3 separate regions of the Homo sapiens genome follow, and all the other regions are linked to region 3. Evidence: fine-mapped expression QTL. A gene starts in region 3. Each other region holds a variant in brackets. All regions are shown on one strand. Distances are from middle to middle.

Evidence for each region.
Region 1: its variant is fine-mapped to the expression of WDR18 in nucleus accumbens (GTEx, PIP 0.95).
Region 2: its variant is fine-mapped to the expression of WDR18 in subcutaneous fat (TwinsUK, PIP 0.95).

Annotation. Positions count from the first base shown.
Region 1 is chr19:950,289-960,082 of GRCh38, forward strand. All of the region lies in intron 3 of ARID3A (AT-rich interaction domain 3A), which reads left to right. Among named protein-coding and RNA genes, the nearest start is that of ARID3A, 29 kb to the left of the region's middle. RefSeq lists enhancers at 1,279-1,358, 2,077-2,778, 2,779-3,480, 4,885-5,586, 6,289-6,990 and silencers at 3,462-3,670, 4,876-5,135, 7,366-7,558. The variant C/A (reference allele first, on the strand shown) is at 7,412.
Region 2 is chr19:1,045,692-1,055,164 of GRCh38, forward strand. ABCA7 (ATP binding cassette subfamily A member 7) reads left to right here. Exons shown (of 47, transcript NM_019112.4): 13 at 539-715; 14 at 1,111-1,333; 15 at 1,466-1,687; 16 at 1,762-1,963; 17 at 3,204-3,314; 18 at 3,575-3,746; 19 at 5,230-5,361; 20 at 5,464-5,603; 21 at 5,758-5,895; 22 at 6,251-6,435; 23 at 6,523-6,595; 24 at 7,638-7,840; 25 at 8,097-8,145; 26 at 8,315-8,419; 4 more. Among named protein-coding and RNA genes, the nearest start is that of ABCA7, 10 kb to the left of the region's middle. RefSeq lists silencers at 5,425-5,589, 5,846-6,046. The variant A/G (reference allele first, on the strand shown) is at 5,184.
Region 3 is chr19:976,972-986,524 of GRCh38, forward strand. It overlaps WDR18 (WD repeat domain 18), which reads left to right and starts at 7,374. Exons shown (of 10, transcript NM_024100.4): 1 at 7,374-7,592; 2 at 8,894-9,004. The coding sequence starts at 7,383. RefSeq lists enhancers at 3,094-3,684, 3,635-3,779, 6,968-7,909, 7,334-7,483, 7,514-7,693, a cis regulatory region at 3,700-3,713 and silencers at 5,640-6,029, 7,194-7,283.

The sequences.
Region 1 (9,794 bases), 27 kb before region 3:
AGAGGGAACGGATGGATGAGGCCGTCCCCAGAGGGAACGGATGGATGAGGCCGTCCCCAGAGGGAACGGATGGATGAGGCCGTCCCCAGAGGGAATGGATGGATGAGGCCGTCCCCAGAGTGAATGGATGAGCACCCAGCCTGAGCCCGGGAAGGTGCTGAGGGTTAGCACAGGCCGCCTGCTGCTGCAGGAGTGAGAGGGGCCCACTCAGGGAAAGAGGGGTTCAGGGGGAGCAGCCAGGTGTGTACAGATGGCTGTAGCCATGTGGAGGCGCGCGTGGGGACCGGCAGGCAGGCAGGGAGTTGGGCTTTCTTCTGGGAGCAGTAGGGAGCCACGGTTGACCGTGGAGCAGGGGAGAGACCTGGTTTGATCTTGGTCTTGACTTCCAAGCCCCTTGGTCCCTCCGACCTTGGAGGCTGCTGGAAGGAGAGGGCATCTCATTTACCATCCTGGCTGCTTCATGGGGATTTGGGAGATAAAAAGCAGCTCTTTCAGTTTAACTTTGGTTGTAGGAGTCACAGTGAATTAGTTCTTTATTTTGTTTTTTTTTTGAGGTGGAGTTTCACTCTTGTTTCCCAGGCTGGAGTGCAATGGCACGATCTCAGCTCACCACAACCTCTGCCTCCCGGGTTCAAACTATTCTCCTGCCTCAGCCTCTTGAGTAGCTGGGGTTACGGGCATGCACCACCACGCCTGGCCTATTTTGTATTTTTGATAGAGATGGGGTTTCTCCATGTTGGTCAGGCTGGTCTCAAACTCCTGACCTCAGGTGATCCGCCCGCCTCAGCCTCCCTAAGTGCTGGGATTACAGGCGTGAGCCACTATGCCCGGCCAGGATTCTTTCTTAAAGAAGAGACGGGGTCTCGCTGTGTTGCTGAGGCTGATCTCAAACTCCTGGGCTCAAGTGATCCTTCTGCCTTGGCCTCCCAACGTGCTGGGATTACAGGCGTGAGCCACCACACCCAGCCTTTTATAAGATCTTTTAAGGCCAGGCGCGGTGGCTCATGCCTGTAATCCCAGCACTTTGGGAGGCCGAGGCGGGCGGATCACAAGGTCAGGAGTTCAAGACCAGCCTGGCCAACATGGTGTGAAACCCCATCTCTACTAAAAATACAAAAATTAGCCAGGAGTGGTGGCAGGTGCCTGTGGTCCCACCTAATCGGGAGGCTGAGGTGGGAGGATCACTTGAGCCCAGGAGGCTGCAGTGAGCTATGACTGCATCACTGCACTCCAGCCTGGGCGACAGAGTAAGACCCTGTCTCAAAAAAAGGAAAAAAAACAACGTAGACTAAAGAACCAAACCTCAGAGTTCCCCGGCTGGTCTGGGTGGGCCTGGCTGTTGGATGAATTCTCTTTTTCCCTCTGACCCTTCAGCCCCGCTGGGTGCGTGGGCGCCTGGGAGGCTCAGGCTGCTGCCCGGAGGGGGCGGCTGCTGACTCAGATCTATTGCTGCTGCTTCTGAGCATCCGCAGACCTATATCTGGCCTTAGAGGAAAACATACTTCTTCAGTTTCCCAGAAGCCATATTGGACAGTGCAAAAACGTGCCTTTTAGAACATTTCTCAGGCTGGGCACAGTGGCTCATACCCAGAATCCCAGCACTTCGAGAGGCAGAGGCGGGAGGATGGCCTGAGGTCAGGAGTTCAAGACCAGCTTGGCCAACATGGTGAAACCCCGTCTCTGCAAAAAATTTAAAAAAAAAATTAGCCAGGTGTGGTGGCACGTGCCGGTAATCCCACCTACTTGGGAGGCTGGGGCAGGAGAATCGTTTGAACCCGGGAGGCGGAGGTTGCAGTGAGCTGAGGTCACACCACTGTACTCCAGCCTGAGCGACAGAGCGAGACTCGGTCTCAAAACAAAAACAAAGTGTCTCAGGCTGGGCGTGGTGGTTCATGCCCAGAATCCCAGCACTCTGGGAGGCCGAGGAGGGAGGATCACTTGAGCCCAGGAGTTTGTACCCAGCCTGGGCAACATAGCAAGACCCCATCTCTACAAAAAAAAGTTAAAACTGGGCATGGTGGTGTGTGCCTGGGGTCCCAACTACTCCAGAGGCTGAGGCAGGAGGATCACTTGAGCCTGAGAGGCTGAGGCTGCAGTGAGCTGTGATCGTGCCAGTGCACTCCAGCCTGGGCCACAGAGCGAGACCCTGTCTCAAAAAAAAAAAAAAAAAAAAAAAAAAGGAAAGAAAATTTCTCTTCTTCTGACATCTCTCTGCCAAGTCTCGGGCCAACCCTCCTGGAGGCTCAGTCAGGCCAACCCTCCTGGAGGCTCAGGGCTCGGCAGTCCCCAAACGCTAGACACTTGGATTCTTTCTTGGATTTCCCTGAATTCTGTGGCCAAAGAGAGCGTCTGAAGGGCTGCAGCTGACCAGGTGCCTCCCAGCTCCTGCACCCCTCCCACCCCTGCCGTGGCCTCATCCCCAGGTGGGGCCTCATGGACTTTGGAGCCTCCTGGGAGACTGGAGGGGGCCTGGGGGGCAAAGGTTCTCCCAGGGGGCCCTGCAGACAGGCGGTTTCTTTACAGCCTGGGCCTCTGGGCCCAAGGACACCGCCCTGGGCCCCCCGCAGCTGCTGGGACCTGGTGGGAGTGCCCAGGTGGGGCCTGCCTGGGGACTGAGTGGGGAAACCATAGCCCCCCTGTGACCTTGGGCACTGCCCACCTGTGACCTTGGGCACTGCTGGGGGAGGGGCCGCATGTGCTGGCCCCGGCCACCCTCTTCTGTCCTGGCCAACCCTTTCCTTGGATTTTCTGCAAACCTCTGGGGTCTTTTTCTGACCTTCCTCCCACCTCCCAGAGCCGGTGGGCTGGGGAGGGGAGTCCTGAGCCGGGGCTGAACTCCCTGGTTCTAGGGGTGGTCCGGGCAGCCGGGGAACCCCCTCCCCACTCCCAGGTGGCCCTGGGACTTATCTTGCACCCTGTCCGCCAGCAGACTCCACTGACCCCCTCGGAGCTGTCGTTTCTCTGGGAGGTGGGGTGGAGAAAATCATCAACGTTTCGCCACAAACAAGAATTTCCTGTTTGCCCTTCCAGGGCTGGGGGGTGGCGGTTATCTCACTTTTTCCTCCCCTCCCCCACCGGCGCCACCACCCGAGCCCCGCCACCCTCTCTCCTCACAGGTGCCCCCTCCAGAGGGGCCCGGTCCTCATCAGGTGGGGGCGGCACCTCCCACCCCCCCAGGCCTCCCACACCCCCCCCCGTGCAGAGCCGGGGGAGTGTCAGGGTCGGGGGCCACAGCGTCTTCCCTCCATCCCCAGAGCCACGGAGTGTGTCTTGCAGATCCGTGTAACGGGGCTCGGGCGTGCAACCTTCTGGGAAGAAAACCAAAGAGGAATGAAGGGGTCAGAGGCTGAGGGGGGCTGTGGAGGGGGCTCTGTCAGAAGGCGACGTTTGGGCGGGAAGGCAGGAGCCGAGCGGGGACCCGGGAGCTGCATTCCAGGCAGAAGGAACAGCGCCGCGGAGGCCCTGGGGTGGGGGCCTGTGCGTTTTACATAGAAAGACGCCAAGGCTGGGTCTGGGGGCTCCTGCCTGTAATCCCAGCGCTGTGGGAGGCTGAGGCAGGAGGATCACTTAAGGCCAGGAGTTTGAGACCAGCCTGAGCAATATAGCAAGACCTTGTCTCTATAGAAATACAAAAATTAGCCGAGCGTGGTGGTGCCTGCCTGTGGTCTCATTGGCTCAGGAGACCGAGGTGGGAGGTGGAGGCTGCAGTGAGCTAGGGTCTCACCACTGCACTCCAGCCTGAGTGACAGAGCGAGACCCTGTCCCTAAATAGGGCAGCTCAAGGCCGGGGCGGAGGGAGCAGGAGAGGGCAGGGAGGGGCCAGGAGGGTGCTGGGGGGCCCTGGGAGGCTGTGGCCGAGGGAGGGTCATGCTCAGATGTCTGTGAAAAACCCCCCACCCCACCCAACTGCTGAGTGGGGAAGGGTCTGGCAGGAGGGGCGGCCGGGGGACCTGGAGGTGGCTTGGCTCCACGCGCTCTGTGCCTCGGTTTCCCCTTCTCCGAAGCAGGTGGTGCTGGGAAGGGGAGACGATGGGCCCAGCCTTGGTAATTAGGGGTCCACACCTTCCATCCCCCACAGCAGGAAGTGGACAGAGGGGAGGGGACCCCCTCAGGGAAAGACCCCCAGGCCTGCCCTGTGGCCCCGCATTTTCTTGGCATCGCACTGAGAAAGCAAGTTCATTTAACATGCATTTATTAGGCAACTGCTGTGTGCCCGATTTTGGATGCTGGCAACAAGATAAGAATTCCGCATGTTCCAGGGCAGACAGACGAGAGACAAATGCGTGAATCCACACAGCTGGGGCCATGCGAGGGCTGGGGGTCCAAGGGGGGCCGTGAGCCAGAAACCCCGTGAGGCCGGTGGTCGGTAAAGGTGGGTGGGAGCAGAGCATCTGCGGAGGTGATATCGGTCCTGGGAGGACGGGGGGCTCCCCTCCAGGGAGGGAATGACCACAGGGGACCCAGACGAAGGGAAGGGGCTGAGAAGGCCTCGCAGACGGGAGGAACAGCCGGGGCGAAGGCGGCCGCTCGGGGCTGATGGGGGGCGGTGGGGGTCTCAGCGGAGGGGCACCTTCAGAACTTCACACCCGACCCCTCCCGTGATCAGAGCAGGCCCCAGGGAGGTCAGGCGGCGTGGAGGGGAGTGCGGGCCGCTTATCTCGGCCCTCAGCCCCTGGGGAGGGAGTTTCCGGAGATTTTGCCCAATCTCCAGCCTGGGTTTAGGGCTCCTGTGGGTGTGTGGTGGGCGGCTGATTTCAGAGCTTTCTGGTTGACGTTTCAGAGGGGCAGGGTTTCGGCCACAGAACCCAGGTGAGAACCAAGGCCTGGGTTTGCCATGGGGTGTGCTGTGGCCCAGCAGTTCAACCCGGGATCTGGCCCACAAGGGGGGCCTGGACACCGCCATGGGCAGCCTGGACACCGTCCCCTGCTTTCCCATCCCTGGGGCCTCGGCCAGCTGGCCAGGGCGGGGCGCCCCCCACAGGGGAGCGGAACCGGGGGCCAGAGACCCATAAAGCCCAGGCGGCCTTTACTGCTGGCTTTGTTGCTGGCTGCCCACAGCAACGGCCATTAGAGCCGCCTCCCCCGCCAGCAGCTGGGGCCCCCGCAGGTCCTCCCTTTACTGCCACGCATCAGTGCCCCGGCCCCACAGGGGTCTGACCGTGCCTCGCCACCGGCCCAGTTCGCCCACCATTTGGCCTGGGAGTTAATGGCTCCCCTCTCCAACCCCAACCTTGGCTGGCTGTACATGGGGCAGCTGATTGCTGCCTGGCGCCTCGGTTTCCCCATCCGGGATGTGAGGGTAGCTGGGGCGCCAGGTGCTTGGGGTAAAGCTGCTGTGTTTTCTCACACACTCTATTTGAGAGATGGGGAAACTGAGGCAGGAGGTGCGGTGAGGTTTCTTGTAGGGGCTGTGCCAGGGAAGGGGGGGTCCAGGCAGGGTAGACCCCGTAATACCGGGTCAGAATCTCAGAGGAGAGGACCTTCCGCTCGCCCTGGAAGGGCCCAAGGTGTGCTGGCCTCTACGTGCGGTTCTTAGCCGGGGGGCTGCGTAACGAAGGACCTCAAACCGCGGGCGTAAAACAAACGAAACCTGTTCTCCCTCCGTCCTGGAGCCCAGAGTCCAAAATCGAGGCGTCCGCAGGGCTGCGCTCCCTCCAGGGGCTGCAGGAGGAGCCTTCCGCCTCTCCCAGCTCCTGGGGGCTCCAGGAGTCCCTTGACATGTGGCCGGCCTCTGTCTCTGTGCGACCGTCTCCAGTGCCCACCGGCCTTCACTGTGACTTTTTCTCAATTTGATCACGTCTGCAAAGGCCCTTTTTCCAAATAACGTCTCGTTCTGAGGTTCTGGGCCGATGTGAATTTGGGTGGGGGATGGCGTTCACCCCAGGACAGCCCCAGCGGTGAAGTCCTCCCCATTCCAGTACCTGCTGCCTCAGGCGTTTCCCTGGCAAGCTCGTCCTGTCCCCCTCTCCGCCCTGTCCCCCTCTCCGCCCTGCCCGGCTCACTTTTGCAGCTGAGAAAATCAAGGTTCAAGTAACGAGCATTTATTAGGCAACTGCTGTGTGCTCGGCTGATTCCAGACTCTGGGAACAAAACAGACTAAACCCCAGATACACTCCTAGATCCGTGACTCGGTGATGGACGGGGTCTCGGAGGAAGAACGTGGAGGGGAGGGGGCGGCAGCCGGGCCGGGGTCAGAGGACGAGGCCGGGCGTGTGGCCATGTGTGCGTGCCTGTGCTCATGGGACCCACCGGCCCGGCCAGCCGGGTCTACCTGAGGGCCCCACACCCCTCAGGCAGCTGAAGGGGAAAGGGCCTCCCCGGCCACCATAAATCAGCGCAGGAATGCAGGCTGGCCAGTCTGGCGCTGGCCGGGTTGGGGCGGAGACAAAGACCAGGCAGCTGGACCTCGGGCAGCCTCGACCACCCAGGGCAGAGGTCAGGACTCCTGGCTGCCCCCCCAGCCCCTTCCCGGAAGGCCTCACTGGGCCTCCAATACACAGACGGGGAAACTGAGGCCCAGAGAGGGGCAGGACGGCTGCAGGGTGATGGGGCCTTTGGCCGGCCTCCCCAGCACCTGGGATGTCCCCGCAGCAGCAGGGGCTGGGCGTGGGTCTCCTTCTGGGCCCTAATGACCGATCATCCCAGCTGAGGCCTAATTGGTGGTTTCAAGGCTCCCCACTGCCCAGCCAGCCACATTCCCCCGAGCTTAATTGGCAGCCTGGTATTTGTCGCAGCTCCTCCTCGGCAAATTGGCCCCCGCCTGAACTCCGCTTTCTAATTATCCCTGCCGGCTTTCCCCCACCCTGCCCGCCCGAACCTGTGGGTGGGGGGGGGCGCTGGGGGACCTCCTGGCTCCTTGTACCCCAGACGGAGCCTCTTTCCCCTCTGGAAGACGTTCCGGGGCCTGGTGATCTTCTTCCTCCCCAGCCACCACCCTGGCAGGCAGAGGCGGTCGGTGGCTCATTTCATAGCTGGAGGCTGAGACTCCAGGCTCCAGGTGCGGGGAAGCCAGCAGGAGACAGGAGGACCGGGATGGGAAGCAGGGCGGGGCTCTGGGCCAAGTCCCCAGCAGCCCCCAGGCTCTGGTCCCGCACTCGCCGCTGTGTCTCAGTTTCCTCACCTGCAAAGCAGAGCCAGTTCTCGGAACAAATGCGCTCCCGTCCGACCCTCAGGACAGCCCCGGGAGGCATGCTGGTGAATTTTTGCAGCGATTTGCTGTGTGAACTCAGGCAGGCACTGTCCTAGGGTAAATTGTGTCCCCCAAAGAAAAGGTGGAGGGCGGTGGCTCCCGCCTGTGACCCCAGCACTTTGAGAAGGCAACACGTGAGGATCGAGGGAGCCCAGGAGGTCGAGACCAGCCAGGGCAACATAGAAAGACCCATCTCTACAAAAGAAAATGTAAAAACTTAGC[C/A]GGGTGTGATGGCGAGTGCCTGTGGTCCCAGCCACTTGGGCAGCTGAGGCAGGAGAATCCCTTGAGCCCAGGAGGTTGAGGCTGCAGTGAGCTATGATTGCGCCACTGCACTCCAGGCTGGGCAACAGAGTGAGACCCTGTCTCCAAAAACAAACAAAAAAAAGACTTTGGGAGGCTGTGGCAGGCGGATCACTTGAGGTCAGGAGTTCAAGACCAGCCTCGCCAAATAGTGAAACCCTGTCTCTACCCAAAAAATACAAAAATTAGCTGGGCATAGTGGCAGGTGCCTGTAATCCCAGCTACTCAGGAGGCTGAGGGGGGAGAATTGCTTGAGCCCCGGAGACAGAGGTTGCAGCGAGCTGAGATTGCGCCATTGCACTCCAGCCTGGGCGACAGAGCGAGACTCCATCTAAAAATAATAATAATAAAAATTAAAATTAAAAAAAAAAATAGGCTGGGCGCAGTGGCTCATGCCCATAATCCCAGCACTTTAGGAGACTGAGGCAGTCGGATCACGAGGTCAGGAGACCATCCTGGCCAAATGGTGAAACTCCGTCTCTACTAAAAATACAAAAAAATTAGCCGGGCGTGGTGGCGGGCGCCTGTAGTCCCAGCTACTCCAAGAGGCTGAGGCAGGAGAATGGCGTGAACCCGGGAGGTGGAGCTTGCAGTGGGCCAAGATCGCGCCACTGCACTCCAGCCTGGGCGACAGAGCGAGACTCCATCTCAAAAAAAAAAAAAAAAAAGAAGAAAGAAAAAGAAAAGAAGAGGACAGGTTCAAGCACTGGATTCCCAGTACCTGTGACAGGACCTCATTTGGAAACGGGGGAACTTACTGACATACAATCACGTGTTGACACTTTGGTCAACCTCAGACCGCAGATGGGACGGTGGTCCCACAGGATTAGAATTCCATATTTCTAGTGGCTCACGCCTGTAATCCCAGCACTTTGGGAGGCCGAGGCGGGCGGATCACGAGGTCAGGAGATCGAGACCATCCTGGCTAACACGGTGAAGCCCCGTCTCTACTAAAAATACAAAAAATTATCCGGGCGTGGTGGCGGGCGCCTGTAGTCCCAGCTACTCGGGAGGCTGAGGCAGGAGAATGGAGTGAACCCGGGAGGCGGAGGTTGCGGTGAGCCGAGATTGCACCCCTGCACTCCAGCCTGGGGACAGCGAGACTCCGTCTCAAAAAAAAAAAAATTCCATATTTCTTGTGCACCTTTTCTGTGTTCAGCTGTGTTAGACGCACAGACACTCATGCTCACGTTGCCACTGCCTACGGGACCCAGGACAGCCACAGATTTGTAGCCCAGGAGCGCTGGCTGGGCTGTGCCTGTGCCTGGGTGTGTGGGAGGCTCCACCCGTGAGGTGTGTGTGACTCACTGTTTGATGTTCACACTGACGAAATCACCAACAGACATTTATCAGGACGCATCCTGCACGAAGACAGAGGCAGAGGCTGGAGCGACGCGGCCACAAGCCCAGGAACCTGGAGCCCCCAGAAGCCGTGAGAGGCAGGAAGGTTCCTCCCTTGGAGACTTCGGAGGGAACGCAACCCTGCAGACATCTTTTGTTTTGTTTTGTTTTTAGAGACAGGGTTGCGTTCTGTCGCCCAGGCTGGAGTGCAGTGGTGCGGTCTCGGCTCACTTCAGCCTCCACTGCCCAGGCTCAAGCAATCCTCCCACCTCAGCCTCCCGAGTAGCCGGGACTGTAGGCATGAGCCACCCCACCTGGGTAACTTTTTGTTATCATAATGTAGAGATGGGGTCTCACTATGTTGCCCAGGCTGGTCTTGAATTCCCGGGCTCAAGCGATTCACCCGCCTCCCAAGGTGCTGGGATTACAGGTGTGAGCCGCCACCCTGAAGAGAAGTTGGTTTTGGACTTCTGGGCTCCGGGACCGCGGGAGAATAGATTTCTGTTGCTTTAAGCTGCAACGTGTGGCTGTAAGGGAGTTAAGGATCGATTTGAGATGAGGTGGCCCTAAAACCAGCAGGCTGGTGTCCTGAGAAGAGGAGAGAGAGACGGGGAGACGGTCTTGTGGAGACGGAGGCAGAGACTGGAGCGCTGCGGCCACAAGCCAGGACGCACCTTGATCTGGGGTTCCCGGGCCCCTGGACCGGGAGAGGACACTGTCTTGTCCCAGGCCACCTGGTTTCTGGTGCCTCCTTGCAGACCCTCTGGGAAGCTCGTTCACCGGCATTTCTGTCTTGCAGCCTTGTGGTTCTTCACCTGCCCAGCGGGGTCTTCGGCTCTGGCAGCGGCTTGAGGGTCCTAGGGGTGGTGACCCCTGCTCCTGTCCTCCTGACCTGGCCTCCAGTGCAGGAGGGACATGGTTCCCACACCTGAGCTCTGGCACCAACTAACCCATCCCCTCTCCA
Region 2 (9,473 bases), 69 kb after region 3:
AAATATCTTTAAAAATTAGCCAGGTGAGGCCGGGCACAGTGGCTCACGCCTGTAATCCCAGCACTTTGGGAGGCTGAGGCGGGCGGATCACGAGGTCAGGAGATCAAGACCATCCTGACTAACTCGGTGAAACCCTGCCTCTACTAAAAAAAAAAAGTACAAAAAATTAGCCGGGCGTGGTAGCACGCGCCTGTAGGCCCAGCTACCCAGGAGGCTGAGGCAGGAGAATCGCTTGAACCCAGGAGGCGGAGGTTGCAGTGAGCCGAGATGGCGCCACTGCACTCCAGCCTGGGCGATAGAGCGAGACTCCGTCTCAAACAAATGAATAAATGAATAAAATTAGCCAGGCGACTTGGGAGGCCGAGCTGGGGGGATCGTTTGATCCCGGGAGGTCAAGGCTGCAGTGAGCTATGATTGCAGCTCTTCACTCCAGCCTGGGCGACAGAGCAAGACCCTGTCTAAGAAAAAGGTTATTCAGGGTGGGGCCCCGGGAGTTTCTAGCCCTTCCCTACAACCGGCCACCATGCCCCTCTCGCAGGTTTTGGGACCCTGGCCCAGCCGCGGACCCCCTGACCGACCTGCGCTACGTGTGGGGCGGCTTCGTGTACCTGCAAGACCTGGTGGAGCGTGCAGCCGTCCGCGTGCTCAGCGGCGCCAACCCCCGGGCCGGCCTCTACCTGCAGCAGATGCCCTATCCGTGCTATGTGGACGACGTGTGAGCTCTGGCACCCCTCCCCGCTCTTCCCCGCGGCGGGAAGGTCCCGGGTGTGGGGGTGGGCCCAGGCTCTGTTGGGAACCTTCCTGCGGTCCAGGCTGCGAACTTTGCACCTTTACACCACTCCACGTGACCTGCTGCAGCGGGAGGAGCAGGGGACTCTGAGGGTCTGGTGGGGGGGGGGACTCTGAGGGTCTGGGGGCCCCCGGCGCAGGGACAGCCTGGGCTGCACTGATGCCTGAGAGCCAAAGGCTGGCTGGATCAGGTTCCAAGGAACAGGGAGGCAAATCTTCCCGCCTTGAGATCCCGGGACACGAACCAGTCGTGCCAGATGGTGGGCGGAGGGGGGGTCTGCGGAGGGTCTCCAGCCTCCACCCCAGCCGTCCCCACCCCAGGTTCCTGCGTGTGCTGAGCCGGTCGCTGCCGCTCTTCCTGACGCTGGCCTGGATCTACTCCGTGACACTGACAGTGAAGGCCGTGGTGCGGGAGAAGGAGACGCGGCTGCGGGACACCATGCGCGCCATGGGGCTCAGCCGCGCGGTGCTCTGGCTAGGCTGGTTCCTCAGCTGCCTCGGGCCCTTCCTGCTCAGCGCCGCACTGCTGGTTCTGGTGCTCAAGGTGGGCGCGCCTCGGCCTGCCCGGCTGCAGAATGGGTGCGCTGGAGGGTGACAGACAGGGGCGGCCCCACGTGGGTGCGCGCCCCCAGGCCAATCCAGGAGCTGCACCCTAAGCTCCCGTTGCCTCTCACAGCTGGGAGACATCCTCCCCTACAGCCACCCGGGCGTGGTCTTCCTGTTCTTGGCAGCCTTCGCGGTGGCCACGGTGACCCAGAGCTTCCTGCTCAGCGCCTTCTTCTCCCGCGCCAACCTGGCTGCGGCCTGCGGCGGCCTGGCCTACTTCTCCCTCTACCTGCCCTACGTGCTGTGTGTGGCTTGGCGGGACCGGCTGCCCGCGGGTGGCCGCGTGGCCGCGGTGAGAGCCGGGTCGGGCGTGGATGGGGGACGCCCCCCGCTTCGGCCGCTCACTGACCGCCCGCTTTTCCGCAGAGCCTGCTGTCGCCCGTGGCCTTCGGCTTCGGCTGCGAGAGCCTGGCTCTGCTGGAGGAGCAGGGCGAGGGCGCGCAGTGGCACAACGTGGGCACCCGGCCTACGGCAGACGTCTTCAGCCTGGCCCAGGTCTCTGGCCTTCTGCTGCTGGACGCGGCGCTCTACGGCCTCGCCACCTGGTACCTGGAAGCTGTGTGCCCAGGTGGGCCGTAGGGGGCGGGGCTCCGGGCCGGGTCGCACCTGCTTTGCGGGAGGCTGAGCTAGGGGTGTGGCCTCCAGGCCGTTTGGGGGTGGGGGGTGGCTTATTCCCTTGGAGAGAAGGCGGGGCTTCTTGGCACACGCATGCAGGTGGCTGCATTGGAGGGGCGGGGCCTGAGGCAGGTGGGCGGGGTTTCTGGGCCGCCTCATACCTGGACGCCCTGATTCCAGGTGTATGGCCAGAAGCTGGCACAGTCGCCGGGCGCTGTGGCTCACGCTTGTAATCCCAGCACTTTGGGAGGCCAAGGCAGGAGAATCGCTTGAGCCCAGGAGTTTGAGACCAGGCTGGGCAATATAGTGAGACCTCATCAATACAAAAAGTTAGCTGGGCGTGGTGGCACGCTGGGCGTGGTGGCACGCTCCTGTAGTCCCAGCTACTCGGGAGGATGGGGTGGGAGGATCACTCGAGCCCAGGAGGTTGAGGCTGCTGTGAGCCGTGATCCCACCAGCCTGGGCAACAGAGTGAGACCTCCATCTCTTTAAAAAAAAAAAAAAAAAAAAAGCTGGCTGGGTGCGGTGGCTCACGCCTGTAATCCCAGCACTTTGGGAGGCCGAGGCGGGCGGGTCATCTGAGGTCGGGATTTCGAGACCAGCCTGACCAACATGGAGAAACCCCGTCTCTACTAAAAATACAAAATTAGCTGGGTGTGGTGGCGGGTGCCTGTTTCCTAGCTACTTGGAAGGCAGAGGCAGGAGAAATGCTTGAATCCCGGAGGCGGAGGTTGCGGTGAGTCGAGATCGCGCCACTGCACTCCAGCCTGGGCAACAAGAGTGAAACTCAGTCTCAAAAAAAAAAAAACAAAAAAAAAAAAAACAAGGCCGGGCACGGTGGCTCACGCCTGCTTTCCCAGCACTTTGGGAGGCCGAGGTGGGCAGATCACGAGGTCAGGAGATGGAGACCATCCTGGCTAACACGGTGAAACCCCGTCTCTCCCAAAAATACAAAAAATTATCCAGGCATGGTGGCGGGCGCCTGTAGTCCCAGCTACTCAGGAGGCTGAGGCAGGAGAATGACGTGAACTGGGGAGGCGGAGCTTGCAGCGAGTCAAAATCGTGCCACTGCACTCCAGCCTGGGCAACAGAGCAAGACTCCGTCTCAAAAAAAAAAAAAAACAAAACCCCAAAAAAAGCCTGGTACACTCCTGGGGGGTGGGCTAAGCAATAACCCGCGCCCCTCCCCGCAGGCCAGTACGGGATCCCTGAACCATGGAATTTTCCTTTTCGGAGGAGCTACTGGTGCGGACCTCGGCCCCCCAAGAGTCCAGCCCCTTGCCCCACCCCGCTGGACCCAAAGGGTGAGGCACTACGAGGCTTAATAGCTGGTTGTCCACATATGCCCAGTTCCCCCCCAAAACGAGATTCCACAGATGCCAATGACAATGACCTGGACACCCCAACCCTCACACCTGCCCTGAAGACACTGCGGTCCCCAAGCTCCCGCAGCTTTTATAGGCCCCGGCCCAGCAGGTCCCGGATTCCACAGCCCAGCTCTGAGGGACTTGCAGGCCCCAGGACCCCCATGACCTCCATGGCTGAGTCCACCCCATCTCTGCAGTGCTGGTAGAAGAGGCACCGCCCGGCCTGAGTCCTGGCGTCTCCGTTCGCAGCCTGGAGAAGCGCTTTCCTGGAAGCCCGCAGCCAGCCCTGCGGGGGCTCAGCCTGGACTTCTACCAGGGCCACATCACCGCCTTCCTGGGCCACAACGGGGCCGGCAAGACCACCACCCTGTGAGCCCCCAACCACTCCCTCCCCGTGAGCCCCCCCACTCCCACCCCGTGAGCCCCCCCACCACTCCCTCCCCGTGAGCCCCCCACCACTCCCTCCCCGTGAACCCCCCACCACTCCCTCCCCGTGAGCCCCCCCACCACTCCCTCCCCGTGAGCCCCCCACCACTCCCTCCCCGTGAACCCCCCACCACTCCCTCCCCGTGAGCCCCCCCACCACTCCCTCCCCGTGAACCCCCCACCACTCCCTCCCCGTGAGCCCCCCCACCACTCCCTCCCCGTGAGGCCCCCCACCACTCCCTCCCCGTGAACCCCCCACCACTCCCTCCCCGTGAGCCCCCCCACCACTCCCTCCCCGTGAACCCCCCACCACTCCCTCCCCGTGAGCCCCCCCACCACTCCCTCCCTGTGAGCCCCCCGACCGCTCCCTCCCCGTGAGCCCCCCCACCACTCCCTCCCTGTGAGCCCCCCCACCACTCCCTCCCTGTGAGTTCCCCCACCACTCCCTCCCTGTGAGTCCCCCACCACTCCCTCCCTGTGAGCCGCCCAAACCACTCCCTCCCTGTGAGCCCCCCACCACTTCCTCCCTGTGAGCTCCCTGTGAGGCCCCCGACCAGTCCCTCCCTGTGAGCAGTAATGGCGCCACTGCACTCCAGCTTGGGCAACGGAGTAAGACCCTGTCTCAAAATAAATAGGGCGGGAGTGGTGGCTCACGCCTGTAATCCCAGCACTTGGGCAAGCCGAGGTGGGAGGATTGCCTGAGGTCAGAGTTTGAGACACAGCCTGGCCAATATGGCAAAACCATCTCTACTAAAAATACAAAAATTAGCCGGGTGTGATGGTGGCGTGCACCTGTAATCCCAGCTACTCAGGAGGCTGAGGCAGGAGAACTGCTTGAACCCTGGAGGCGGAGGTTGCAGTGAGCCGAGACTGTGCCGTTGCACTCCAGCCTGGGCAACAGAGTGAGACTCTGTCACAAAAAAATAAAAATAAACAAATAAATAAAAATAAGGCTATCACAGGGTTTTGGATGTAGCATTTAATAGGTGCTCTGTGGCCAGGCGTGGTGGCTCAGGCCTGCAATCCCAGCACTTTGGGGGGCCGAGGCGGGTGGATCACGAGGTCAGGAGATTGAGATCATCCTGGCTAACATGGTGAAACAGTGAAACCCCGTCTCTACTAAAAATGCAAAAAAATTAGCCGGACATGGTGGCGGGCGCCTGTAGTCCCAGCTACTCGGGAGGCTGAGGCAGGAGAATGGCGTGAACCCGGGAGGTGGAGCTTGCAGTGAGCCGAGATCGTGCCGCTGCACTCCAGCCTGGGCAACAGAGTGAAACTCCGTCTCAAAAATAATAATAATAATAATAATAATAATAATAATAATAAATAATTAAAAATTTTTTAAAAACAGAAATTAAAAATAGAAGCTCTGTAACTGCC[A/G]GTGCACTCTGTGAAGGGGGCTACTCTGAGACCCCTCTATCCACAGGTCCATCTTGAGTGGCCTCTTCCCACCCAGTGGTGGCTCTGCCTTCATCCTGGGCCACGACGTCCGCTCCAGCATGGCCGCCATCCGGCCCCACCTGGGCGTCTGTCCTCAGTACAACGTGCTGTTTGACATGTGCGTCTCGGCAGGCCCAGAGTGCAGCGGTGGGAAGGGACTGGACGCCCTCTGGGACTCTGCCTGCCATGTGGGTCACTCTGCTCTGTGCACTGGCCGCAGGCTGACCGTGGACGAGCACGTCTGGTTCTATGGGCGGCTGAAGGGTCTGAGTGCCGCTGTAGTGGGCCCCGAGCAGGACCGTCTGCTGCAGGATGTGGGGCTGGTCTCCAAGCAGAGTGTGCAGACTCGCCACCTCTCTGGTGAGCCCATCCCCAAGGGAGGTCACCTCACAGGGAGGGGCCTGGGGATTCATCCTGAAGGCAGGGGGAAGCCGGGTACTGAGGTCCACGTGGGTAGGCAACCTTGCCCAAGGCTGGGTGTGACACACTGAGGTCCCTTCCCCATCTCTACCAGGTGGGATGCAACGGAAGCTGTCCGTGGCCATTGCCTTTGTGGGCGGCTCCCAAGTTGTTATCCTGGACGAGCCTACGGCTGGCGTGGATCCTGCTTCCCGCCGCGGTATTTGGGAGCTGCTGCTCAAATACCGAGAAGGTAAGAGCTGGGGATTCTGCTCGAGGGGCCAGAAAAGGCTTCTGACAAGGAAGTGCTGGGGATGGGGTTTTGAGGAATGAGTAGGAGTTTGCTACATGTGGACCCCACTTGTTGCTATGGCATTTAGGGGCTACTGCTCAAATACCGAGACAGTAAGAGTTGGGGATAGACAGAGGTTCCCCTGGATTCTGCCTGAAGGGCCAGAAAAGGTTTCCAACAAGGAGGTTCTGGGGATGAGGTTTTGAGGGATGAATAGGAGTTTGCTTCATGGGGCAGACAACTCCTGGCAGAGGCCCCAGCTCGGGCAAAGACGCGGCGGCCTGATGGTAGTTGTGGGTTGGTCCCCCGTGCCTAGGTCGCACGCTGATCCTCTCCACCCACCACCTGGATGAGGCAGAGCTGCTGGGAGACCGTGTGGCCGTGGTGGCAGGTGGCCGCTTGTGCTGCTGTGGCTCCCCACTCTTCCTGCGCCGTCACCTGGGCTCCGGCTACTACCTGACGCTGGTGAAGGCCCGCCTGCCCCTGACCACCAATGAGAAGGTGGGGACCGGCCTTCTCCTGACCCCTGACCCCCGGGACTCTGTTCAGCCCTGAAGGCCAAGCCACTTGGTGCCTCTCTGCCCGCAGGCTGACACTGACATGGAGGGCAGTGTGGACACCAGGCAGGAAAAGAAGAATGGCAGCCAGGGCAGCAGAGTCGGTGAGGGCCGGGGTGGGAGACCCAAGGCGGGTGGGCAGTGGGGTGGCTGTGCCTTAACTTGAGGAGGAGGAGGGGGAGGGGGAAGAGGAGGAGGAGGGGGAGGAAGCGGCAGAGGAGGTTGAGGCGGAGGAGGAGGGGGAGGAGGAGGGGGAGGAGTAAGAGGTGGAAGGGGAGGCGAAGGGGAGGAGTAGGAGGGAGAGGAGGAGGGGGAGGGAGAGGAGGAGGGGGAGGAGAAGGGGGGAGGAGGAGGGGAAGGGAGAGGAGGAGGGGGAGAAGAAGGGGAGGAGTAGGAGGGGAGCAGAAGGGGAGGAATAGGAGGGGGAGGAGGAGGGGGAGGGAAAGGGGGAGGAGAAGGGGGAGAAGTAGGAGGAAGAGGAGGGGGAGGAGAAGGGGGAGGAGTAGGAGGGAGAGGAGGAGGAGGGAGAGGAGGGGGAGGAGAAGGAGAGGAGGAGGAGAGCACTTGAGAACCTGAGATGATGCCCCCATCCCTGGGCTGAGCCGGAACCATGAGACTAACTTGAACACTGACCCCACCTTTAACCCAACCAGGGCTGAGCCCAGAGACAAACCTACCCCTGACCTCCAACACTAGGTCCAGCACTGCCCTCAAGATCTCTTTTTGTTTGTTTCTGAGTCTTGCTCTGTCGCCCAGGCTGTAGTGCAGTGGTGTGATCTCAGCTCACTGCAACCTCTGCCTCCTGGGTTCAAGCATTTCTCCTCCCTCAGCCTCTCGAGTAACTGGGATTACAGGTGGGTTCCACCATGCCTGGCTAATTTTTGCATTTTTGGTAGAAATGGGGTTTCACCATGTTGGTCAGGCTGGTCTCAAACTCCTGACCTCAGGTGATCTGCCTGCTTCAACCCTCAAAGTGCTGGGATTACAGGCGTGAGCCACTGCGCCCGGCCGCACCTGGCCTACGTTCTTAACCCTGATCTCTGTCTGCCGGGACAGTCCCCTCACAGGTCACCAATGCCTCTTCCCCAGGGAGACTGGGGTGGGGCGTGAGCCGGGGCTCCCTGAAGCACCCCTTTGTCCACACAGGCACTCCTCAGCTGCTGGCCCTGGTACAGCACTGGGTGCCCGGGGCACGGCTGGTGGAGGAGCTGCCACACGAGCTGGTGCTGGTGCTGCCCTACACGGGTGCCCATGACGGCAGCTTCGCCACACTCTTCCGAGAGCTAGACACGCGGCTGGCGGAGCTGAGGCTCACTGGCTACGGGATCTCCGACACCAGCCTCGAGGAGGTGTGAGGCCTGGGTGGTGGTGAGGTGGGGCCAGGAGGAGGGCTTCCTGGAGGAGGTGGTGTTTTGAAGGATGAATAGCGTGTTTATGAGCAGCAAGGACATTCAGGGAGGAGGCATGGCACATGAGGAGCTCTGGTGGCTCAGATGTCCCTTGGGAAGGCCTGGGGGACCCATGGTGTAGGAGGGGTGGGGGGCTCACAAGCCCCCAGTTCTCCCTGTCGGTGTCCAGTCTCTGAGCCCCTGCTTGTCTCCCCAGATCTTCCTGAAGGTGGTGGAGGAGTGTGCTGCGGACACAGATATGGAGGGTGCGGCCACAGCTCCCTGACCCCTGACCCCAGTCCAGAGTGGGACCAGAGGCCAGGTCCCCATCCCTGGCTTAGTGTGGCCCAAGGCATAGCCTTTACCCTATACCTGATTCCTGATCCCCCAATCCGTGACCCTCAACTTTGACCCTGACCCCTGATGGCCCTGCAGATGGCAGCTGCGGGCAGCACCTATGCACAGGCATTGCTGGCCTAGACGTAACCCTACGGCTCAAGATGCCGCCACAGGAGACAGCGCTGGAGAACGGGGAACCAGGTAAGTCCTTCCCAGTGGCCCTGGGGTCCTCCCAGCCACCCCCCCACAGCAGCGTGAGCACTGACCCTCTCATCCCTCACAGCTGGGTCAGCCCCAGAGACTGACCAGGGCTCTGGGCCAGACGCCGTGGGCCGGGTACAGGGCTGGGCACTGACCCGCCAGCAGCTCCAGGCCCTGCTTCTCAAGCGCTTTCTGCTTGCCCGCCGCAGCCGCCGCGGCCTGTTCGCCCAGGTGAGGAGGGCTAGCACCAGGGAGTCGCATGGGAGTCCCTGAGTTCCCTACCCTGGCCGTCCACTCAGTGGCCTAATCCAAACCCTTACCCCCGTGTGTATTCCCAACCCAAAGCACATTTATTGAGGGCACTGGGGAGCCATGGGTGGTTGTAGAGCAGGAGCAGGGACAGGTGCAAGCAAGCCTGGAGGGTGGATGGAAGCAGCAGCTGATGGGCTGGTCCCCCAGATCGTGCTGCCTGCCCTCTTTGTGGGCCTGGCCCTCGTGTTCAGCCTCATCGTGCCTCCTTTCGGGCACTACCCGGCTCTGCGGCTCAGTCCCACCATGTACGGTGCTCAGGTGTCCTTCTTCAGGTGGGTGCAGAAGGAAGGGGCTGGTGGCAGGAAGACTAGGGACCTGGGGGTACAGCCCTGACCCTACATCTCCCCTCACACACAGTGAGGACGCCCCAGGGGACCCTGGACGTGCCCGGCTGCTCGAGGCGCTGCTGCAGGAGGCAGGACTGGAGGAGCCCCCAGTGCAGCATAGCTCCCACAGGTGAGGCGTCTTGTTGGCCTGGACCTTTCCCCTCTCTGGCCTCAGTTTTCCCATCTGGTCCCTGGCCAGGGAGCCTCAGGGGGCACCTGGAGCATCCCCTGTGCCCACCTGGGAGCTGGGAGCCTCTGTGGCTCCAGGAACCCCCAGAAGCTGGGTGCCCACAGACCTTCACCTTGACCCTGCAGCGCCCTTGAGTGTGCACAGCCCATTGTCTGCAGGTTCTCGGCACCAGAAGTTCCTGCTGAAGTGGCCAAGGTCTTGGCCAGTGGCAACTGGACCCCAGAGT
Region 3 (9,553 bases):
GGACGCTGCTCGGCACCCTGAGTGCCCAGGACGTCCCCACCCCAGAGAAGGATCCAACCGCAAGGTCCACAGGGCCGAGGGGAGCTCCTGGAGGCCGCTCTGGGCACCTCTGTGCCTCGCTGAGAGCCCGACACCAATCCCGTTTTAGGGATTTGGGATGACAGGTGTGGCAGGGCCAGTGTGCGCACCCCCAGCCACCTGCCCACGAGCCTGACCCCTCGCCTCCTGCCTCAACAGGGCTCTGCATGCGGGCGCCCCTGGCGTTATCCGACCGGAGCTCCCAGGGCAAGTGGCCCGGTCCGGCCTCAGGGCCTTCACACAGCTGTTCCACCGCCGGGAACAGCCCTCTCCCCCTTTGCTCTGACAGACTCCTTTCCATCCTCTGCAGCCGACACACAGTCCCCGCCTGCCCATGACAGGAGGGTGCGGCCCCTCGGGTGGGAGGCACGGGGCTCCCCGCTCCTCCGCCCTCTGTGCGGCCCAGATGGAGGCCCTTGTGCCGAGCGGGACACCCTGTTCCCGAGCCCCCCATAAGTTTGCCCTCCTTCACCTCCTAGGCGAGCCCAGGAACCAGCCCACTGGTGAAGCCGCCTGGAGCTGAGGCCTCTGGGGTTCAGGGGCGTCCTGGTGGCTGGGGGAGGGAACTTTTCCAGTGCTGGCCACATTTTCACCTTTTCCCTTACAACACCATTCGGGTCCTAGGAAACAAGACCAAGGGCCAGATTTGGCCCCTGGACAGCCAGTTTGCAGCCCCCAAACCCAGAACATAGTAAAGGGACTCAGCTGGGGTCAGAGGTTCACACCCGTAATCCCAACACTCGGAGGCTGGAGCGGGAGGATGGATAGAGCCCAGGAGTTTGAGACCAGCCTGGGCAACATAGGGAGACCCCATTTCTACCAGAAATTAAAAAAAAAAAAAAAAGCCGGGCATGGTGGCTGCGGTGAACAGTGATCATGCCATTGTACTCCAGCCTGGGCAACAGCAAGACCCTGTCTCTCTCTCTCTCTTTTTTTTTTTTGAGACGAAGTCTCGCTCTTTCTCCCAGGCTGGGGTGCAGTGGTGCATTCTCGGCTCACTCCAACCTCTGCCTCCCAGGTTCAAGCAATTCTCCTGCCTCAGCCTCCCGAGTAGCTGGGAGTATAGGCGCCCGCCACCACACCCGGCTAATTTTTGTATTTTTAGTAGAGATGGGGTTCCACCATGTTGGCCAGGATGGCCTCGATATCCTGACCTCGTGATTTGCCTGCCTTGGCCTCCTAAAGTGCTGGGATTACAGGCATGAGCCACTGTGCCTGGCCCCTTTTTTTTTTTTTTTTGAATCAGGGTCTCACTGTGTCAACCAGGCTGGAGTGCAATGGCACAATCTTGGCTCATTACAACCTCTGCCTCCTGGGTTCAAGCGATTCTCCCAACTCAACCTCCCAGGTAGCTGGGATTACAGGCACGCGGCACCACGCCTGGCTAATTTTTGTGCTTTTAGTAGCAACGGGTTGGGTTTTCACCATGTTGGCCAGGCTGGTCTCGAACTCCTGACCTCAAATGATAACACCCACCTTGGCCACACAGGGCCAGCCGGGACCCTGTCTCTTAAAAATAATAATAAAAGGCCGGGCACGGTGGCTTACGCCTGTAATCCTAGCACTTTGGGAGGCCAAGGTGGGTGGATTGCCTGAGCTCGGGAGTTCGAGACCGGTCTGGGCAACATGGCAAAACCCTGTCTCTACTAAAATAAAAAAAATTAGCTGGGCGTGGTGGTGTGCACCTGTAGTCCCAGCTTCTTGGGAGGCTGAGGCAGGAGAATTGCTAGAATCTGGGAGGCAGAGGTTGCAGTGAGCTGAGATCAACCCACTGCACTCCAGCCTGGGTGACAGAGCAAGACTCCATCTCTAAAAACATTAATTAGGCCGGGCGTGGTGGCTCATGCCTGTAATCCCAGCCCTTTGGGAGGCCGAGGCGGGTGGATCACGAGGTCAGGAGATCGAGACCAGCCTGGCCAATATGGTGAAACCCCGTCTCTACTAAAAATACAAGAAATTAGCTGGGCGTAGTGGCGGGCGCCTGTAGTCCCAGCTACTCAGGGAGGCTGAGGCAGGGGAATGGCATGAACCCAGAGGCGGAGCTTGCAGTGAGTCGAGATCACGCCACTGCACTCCAGCCTGGGTGATAGAGCGAGACTCCGTCTCTAAAAACATTAACTAATTAATTAATTAAAAATTAAAAAATAAAAGGCCTCTCGTTCTTAGCCCACAAACCCAAAGAAAGTGGTATTGCAACGTTTTCCCAGGAAAGGGTTTCCTGGGCCGCCTAACCCACTGTCCACCCTCCCATTGCCCACGCCCAGGGGACGTGACTGGAGGAGGGTCAGCGTGGCTGGAGGTGGACAGGCCCAGACTCAGCTGCCCGGCCTCCCGCGCACCATCCTGGCCGAGGCTGGCCGGGACACGTCCCTCCCCAGGGCTGTGTTGGAGGCGAGGGACCAACAACACCCCCACACCTGTCCCAGCCGGTTGGTTCCTGAAACCCACGTTAGACCCTGGCCCCGGAAGGGAAAATGGCATTTTCCATTCCAGCCAGAAATGAGTCTGCCAAACCCTGCGTCCCGGAGATGGAGTCCCACTCACTGCCTGGAGGAGCCCGCCGGCCCCAGGGAGAGGAGGGAAGAACCCTGGGAAAGCCCCCACCCCAAACTGGATCGTCAGGCCCTGCTTGTTCACCCGCAGCTGAGGGCCTCAGAGGCGGGGAGTCAGGGAGGGGGTGCACCTCTGAGTTCCCCAGCCTGGGAGGGAGGGACTCAGCCCCCAGCTCTCCCCAGCCAGGGAGGGACTCAGCCCCCCACCTCCTCCCCAGGCCCCCACCTCTCCCCAGCCAGGGAGGGACTCAGCCCCCCACCTCCTCCCCAGGCCCCCACCTCCCTCCCCAGCCAAGGAGGGACTCAGCCCCCCACCTCCTCCCCAGGCCCCCACCTCCCTCCCCAGCCAAGGAGGGACTCAGCCCCCCACCTCCTCCCCAGGCCCCCACCTCCCTCCCCAGCCAAGGAGGGACTCAGCCCCCCACCTCCTCCCCAGGCCCCCACCTCCCTCCCCAGCCAGGGATGGACTCAGCCCCTCACCTCCTCCCCAGCCCAGGAAGGGCCCAGCCACCCCCTAGCCTCTCAGAGCCCAGCCACCTCCCTGGGCCGCCTGCTAGGTGCTTGCTAGGAGGGCGGGAGGCTCCCGGAGGTGAAGCTCAAACCCTCCTCTGATAGCCGATTTTCGGAGCCAGCCAAGAGTCCAGACTGGAGAGGCGGCGGCTGAGACGCTTCCAAAAGCAGAGGGCTACCAGAGCCGGCTGCTGCTCTCCCCACTGGCATAGGTAATGATGGGGCTGCCGCGGGACGGCCGCAGCTGCTGGGTCTGTGGGGCCAGGACCGGGGCAGCCAAGCCGACTGGGGTCTGGCTGGGTTCATCAGTGCCTGCAAACTGGCGGTGCTCCATAAATGTGCAGGGGATGGAGAATGAGGGCCTTACACCCCGAGGGGAACGTTCCTGCCTCTGTGCCTCAGTTTCCCCTTCCTGGTTACCCCCCCTTCACAACCTCCAGCTGGCACCAACGAGATCCGGCCGCTGGGTGGTCTGGAGATGCCCCCAAAGTGTGGCTTCTGTCCCCTGCTCCAACACGATTAGTCTGTCCTCATTCCAGGAACCAGGCTGGGGGCGGGGTGACCTCTGACCTCACACTGCAGCCTGGCCTGGCCACGTCCCCAGGGAGGGGAGGAGGGGAGGAAGGCCTGGCTCGGGCTGGGCCGCAGCAGGAGGCCTGTGAGAAGGTGGAGACTGTAGTCCATCGACTTCCTGCTGCCCCTGCCCTCTCCTGCCTGTGGCAGCAGCCCACACCTGCCCGGTCTGCTGGGTGTCCTGGAACCCGGGAATTTAAAAACTTCCAGGCTGGGCCAGGCGGTGGCTCATGCCTGTAATCCCAGCACCCTGGGAGGTCGAGGAAGGAGGATGGTTTCAACCCAGGAGTTCAAGACCAGCCTGGGCAACACGGCGAGAGCCCCTATCTATGAAAAATTAAAACGCTAGTCAGGTGTGGTGGTGTGCACCTGTGGTCCCGGGAGGCTAAGGTGGGAGGATCGCTTGAGCCCTGGAGGTTGAGGCTGCAGTGAGCTATGACGGTACCACTGCACTCCAGCCTGGGCGACAGGGCCAGACTCTGTTAAGAAAAACTAAAAATGAACCAGGCGCAGTGGCTCACGCCTGTAATCCCAGCACTTTGGGAGGCTGAGGCGGGCAAATCACGAGGTCAGGAGTTTGAGACCAGCCTGGCCAACATGGTGAAACCCCGTCTCTACTAAAAATACAAAATAAATTAGCCGGGCATGGTGGCACATGCCTGTAGTCCCAGCTACTCCGGAGGGTGAGGCAGGAGAATCGCTGGAAACCAGAAGGCGGAGGTTGCAGTGAGCTGATTGTGCCATTGCACTCCAGCCTGGGCAACAAGAGCAAGACTCAATTTCAAAAGAAAAAAAGAAAAAGAAAAATGAAAAAAAAGGCCAGGTGCGGTGCCTCACGCCTGTAATCCCAGCACTTTGGGAGGCTGAGGCAGGTGGATCACCTGAGGTCAGGTGTTCGAGACCAGCCTGGCCAACATGGTGAAACCCCGTCTCTACTAAAACTACAAAAATTAGCCGGGCGTGGTGGTGAACACCTGCAATGCCAGCTATTCAGGAGGCTGAGGCAGGAAAACCACTTGAAGCCAGGAGGCGGAGGTCGAAGTGAGCTGAGATCACGCCACTGCACTCCAGCCTGGGCAACAGAGTGAGATCCACCTCTCCTGCTTGTCTACAAAAAACAAAAATAAATAAAGTAAAAATTAAAACAAGGCCAGGCACAGTGGCTCATGTCTGTAATCCCAACCCTTCGGGAGGCCAAGGTGGGAGCATCATTTGAGCCCGGGAGTTTAAGACCAGCTGGGCAATAAAGCAAGACCCTGTCGCTGCAAAAAAAGAAAAAAAAAAAGCACAAAATTAGTTGAGTGTGGTTCCTATGGTTCCAGCTACTCGGGAAGCTGAGGTGGGAGGATGGCTTGAGCCCAGGAATTGGAGACTACAGTGAGCCATGATTGCACGATTCTCCTGCCTCAGCCTCCCGAGTAGCTGGGATTACAGGCATGCACCACTGTGCCCAGCTAATTTTTGTATTTTTAGTAGAGACGGGTTTCACCTTGTTATCCAGGATGATCTTGATCTCGTGATCCACCCACCTCGGTCTCCCAAAGTGCTGGGATTACAGGCCGGAGCCACCACGCCCCGCCGATTTTTTTAAATAATGTTTTTTAAATAATGTTGGAGGCCGGCCTCAGTAGCTGACGCCTGTAATCCCAGCACTTTGAGAGGCCGAGACGGGCAGATCACCTGAGGTCAGGAGTTCGAGACCAGCCTGGCCAACGTGGTGAAACTCCGTCTCTACTAAAAATACAAAACTTAGCTGGGCGTGGCGGCTCACACCTGTAATCCCAGCTACTCGGGAGGCTGAGACAGGAGAATCGCTTGAACCCGGGAGGCAGAGGTAGCAGTGAGCCGAGATCGCACCATTGCACTCCAACCTGGGCCACAGAGCAAGACTGTCGCAAAATAAAGAAAGAAAATAAAAATGAGGTTGGAGGAAACTCTGGAGGCACAGCAGGTCCTTGGATTGGACTCCCTCCCTCCCTCCCAGGATAAAATGAAATCCAGGCCTCGTTCACACGGCCCTGCACGGCCCGGCCCCGCTCCGTGGTCCTGCCCCAGGGCCTTCGCACGGGCCTGCCCCGCACACGGTTCTCTGGGGGTCGCTGGCTCCCCGCTCAAACGGCCCCTCCTGCCGACCAGGCGGGTCCCCGGGGCCGCCCTCCCTCTGGCCTGGGCTCGGGGTCGGTGGCTCGCGCCTGCCACCTGGCGGCCAGCGGGGCTGCGGCGCCGCACGCTCTGGCACCAGCCTCCTGCCCCGGCCGTGCCCTCCGCCGGGAGCCGCGGACCAGGAGTCGCACCGCCTCCGGGGACCGCACCCCGCATGCAGCCTCCAGCCCCTGCCTCTTGCTGCTCGAGGGCACACGACCCAGGTCAGCTGCAACCCCCGGGCGGAAATCCCGACTTTTAAATGAATGCTCCCTTTTTATCCCTTTTTAAGGGGTTGGCAACTAATTGCACATTTTAAATCATACTGTTTTTAGGCCGGACGTTGTGGCTGAAGCCTGTAATCCCAGCGGTTTAAGAGGCCAAGGCCTAAGCCCAGGTGTTGGAGACCAGCCTGAGCAACACAGTGAGACCCCCCATCTCTACTAGATATATATTTAGTATAAATAAATAATAGATATATGTTTTTCTTTGAGACAGAGTCTCATTCGCCCAGGCTGGAGTGCCTGGGATCTCGGCTCACTGAGACCTCCGCCTCCCGGGTTCAAGCGATTCTCCTGCCTCAGCCTCCCACCACGCCCGGCTTTTTGTACTTTTTGTAAAGACGGGGTTTCGCCATGTTGGCCAGGGTAGTCTCGAACTCCTGATCTCAGGTAATCCACCCACCTCGGCCTCCCAAAGTGCTGGGATTACAGGCCTGAGCCAAAGCGCCCGGCCTTTTTTTTTTTTTGAATGCCGTTTTCAGACATGGTCCGTGACGGGCAGCCGTGACATGAAGTTAGACCCTGCTTGGCTCGGACAGAACTGGCGACTTGTTTGACCTACACCAAGCTATCCGACTAATAATTTAGATGTTGAGGCCCCTAAAGAGGGGTCAAGGGGGAGGCAGATGTCGACCAATAAGGAAACACTGGGCCGGGCGCGGTGGCTCACGCCTGTAATCCCAGCACTTTGGCAGGCCGAGCTGGGAGGATCACTTGAGCTCAGGAGTTCGAGGCCAGCCTGGGCAGGACAGTGAGACCCTGGCTCTACAAAACTAAATAAATAAGGAAGCAGTGAATTCCAATGTATTCATCGCCAACTAGCCATGTTGCTGGGTGTGCGCTCTCTCTTTTAGGCGCAATGTGTCATTTAGGCCTGTGACGTCGGAACTTTATTATTTGAACATTTAAAAATAAATGAATCCAAGAGCTTGAGTCACTTGGCCAAAAATGCCCAGGAGGAAAAGGCCAAGTCAGGTACCCCGGCTCTAGAGCTACTAACTGATCGCCGGAGACCCTGGGCCTTGGAAGAAGTCGCCTCCCCAGATCTCTAAGCAGGCCGCGCGACCCTCGAGTCTCAGGTAAGCGGGAAATCCCACTTCACAAGAAAGCCCCTCTCTCCGAGGCACGGGCGCATGCGCGGGTCGGCCACCCGCTGGGGCCGCGGGGCCGCCGCTCTGGCCCGCGTGGGGCAGTCGTCCGCGTCTCGCTCATGATGACGCACGTCCGGGGCGGTGGGGAAGGCAAGATGGCGGCGCCCATGGAGGTGGCCGTGTGTACGGACTCGGCGGCCCCGATGTGGAGCTGCATCGTGTGGGAACTTCACTCGGGCGCCAACCTGCTCACCTACCGCGGCGGCCAGGCGGGACCCCGCGGCCTGGCGCTGCTCAATGGCGAGTATCTGCTGGCGGCGCAGCTGGGCAAGAATTACATCAGCGCCTGGGAGCTCCAGCGGAAGGTGCGGCGGTGCGGTCTCGCTGCTGGGGTCATGGGGCGCCCGAGGCTGAAGTCGGGGGATGGGTTGGTGGGGGCCGCGTGCACCCTTAGTCGGAATTGGCGTGGGGAGGGGAGGTGGTCTCCGTTCGGGCGCTCTGCGCATGCGCGGGTCTGGGGGCTTTGGGGAGATACGTGCGACCTGTTAGGCCGCTCTGCGCACGCGCGGGGCTCAGGCCTGAGCTGCTATGGGGGCAGTGGGGGAAAATGGGAGACGCTCCGGGGGGTCCCTTGGGGCAATTGCGCATGCACGAGTTCTTGGAGCGCGAAATTTGATTAAAAGGGGCCTATGAGCTCTGTGGATGTTGTGGTTCTGGAGGAAAAGGGAGAAGGACCAAGGTCTGGGGGAGTCTCCCATGAAGGGGTGGCGCAGGAAACTCATGTTTATTCCTCCAATAAAGCAACAGATACTCACCGTCGCCCACAGTTTCCCCTCTACTCCCAAGCCCAAATGCAGCCAGTCCCTGAAGCTACTCGCTTCCCCCGTGTGCCCGCTGAGATCTCTTGGGACTGGCTCTGTGCTCCAGCATTGCCTGATGGAGTCTACACACAACTCATAAATTTCTCCCATTTTATTTTAGTTTTGAGACAGGGTCTCACTCTGTCGCTGAGGCTGGAGTGCAGTGGTGCGATCTCGGCTCACTGCAGCCTCTGCCTCTAGGGTTCAAGCGATTCTCGGGCCTCAGCCTCCTGAGTAGCTGCAACTACAGGCCCGCACCAACCACCACACCCGGCCCACATTTGTATTTTTTGTAGAGGCAGGGTTTCACCATGTTGGCCAGGCTGGTCTCGAACTCCTGACCTCAAGTGATCTGCCCACCTCAGCCTCCCAAAGTGCTGGGATTACAGCCGTGAGCCACCACGCCCGGCTGAGTTTTCCCATTTTAGAGAGGAGGAAGCTGAGGCTTGGGGTCTTAGGTTGGACATTATGGATAGAAGGATTGGGGCACAAGCCTACTGGGCTCTTGGGCCCCAGTGTCCTTCTGGATCCTCTTTGTTCTGTTCCTGTACTCCTCCCACCCAGGGCCCCTCTGACCCTCAGAGGAAGCACCAACCTCACATCTACCACCTCCAGCCTCGAAGCCTCTTGCAGGGGCGAACACTTCCTTGCTGGACCATGCATTTGCTCAAACCACCCTGCTCCCGACTCCTCTTCCTGGTTCTCTGACTTAGCCATTGCCCAGGCGTCCCCTCCCCTCGCCCTCCACTGCTGTAGTAGCTCCCGTGTCCTGCATGGGGCTCACGAGGCTGACTGTGCATCCTTAGGACCAGCTCCAGCAGAAGATCATGTGCCCCGGGCCTGTCACCTGTCTGACTGCATCACCCAATGGTCTCTACGTCCTGGCAGGAGTTGCAGAAAGCATCCACCTGTGGGAGGTAAGAGGAGCAAAGCGTGAGCGTTTCCCACAGGACATCTCAGCCCATCTGAGCTTTGCCTGCAGGGCACCAGGGAACAACCATGCGGCCTGGGGCCCTGGGATGGGTGACTGCTCAGGGGTTATAGCCTAAGCTTCACCCTGCTGCCTCCTTTCTCCAGGTCCCCTCGAGACTTGCGAATCCCAGACCAGCCCTAATCCTGCCTTGAGTGCTTGGATAGAGCCCGGTGCAGCCCAGTCCCCGGCACTCACACACCGCAGCATCTTCCAGGGCTAGCGGGCATCTCTTCCACGCAGGCGGCAGCGCCTGGCACTTGTGACTTGAAAGTTATAAAGGGCGGCCGGGCGCAGTGGCTCATGCCGGTAGTCAATGCAACCTCTGCCTCCCAGGTTCAAGCAATCCTCCTGTCTCAGTCTCCTGAGTAGCTGGGATTCCAGGCGCCCACCACCACACCTGGCTAATTTGTTTGTATTTAGTAGAGAAGGGCTTCACAATGTTGGTCAGGCTGGTCTCCAACTCCTGACCTCAGGTGATCCACCCGCCTCGGCC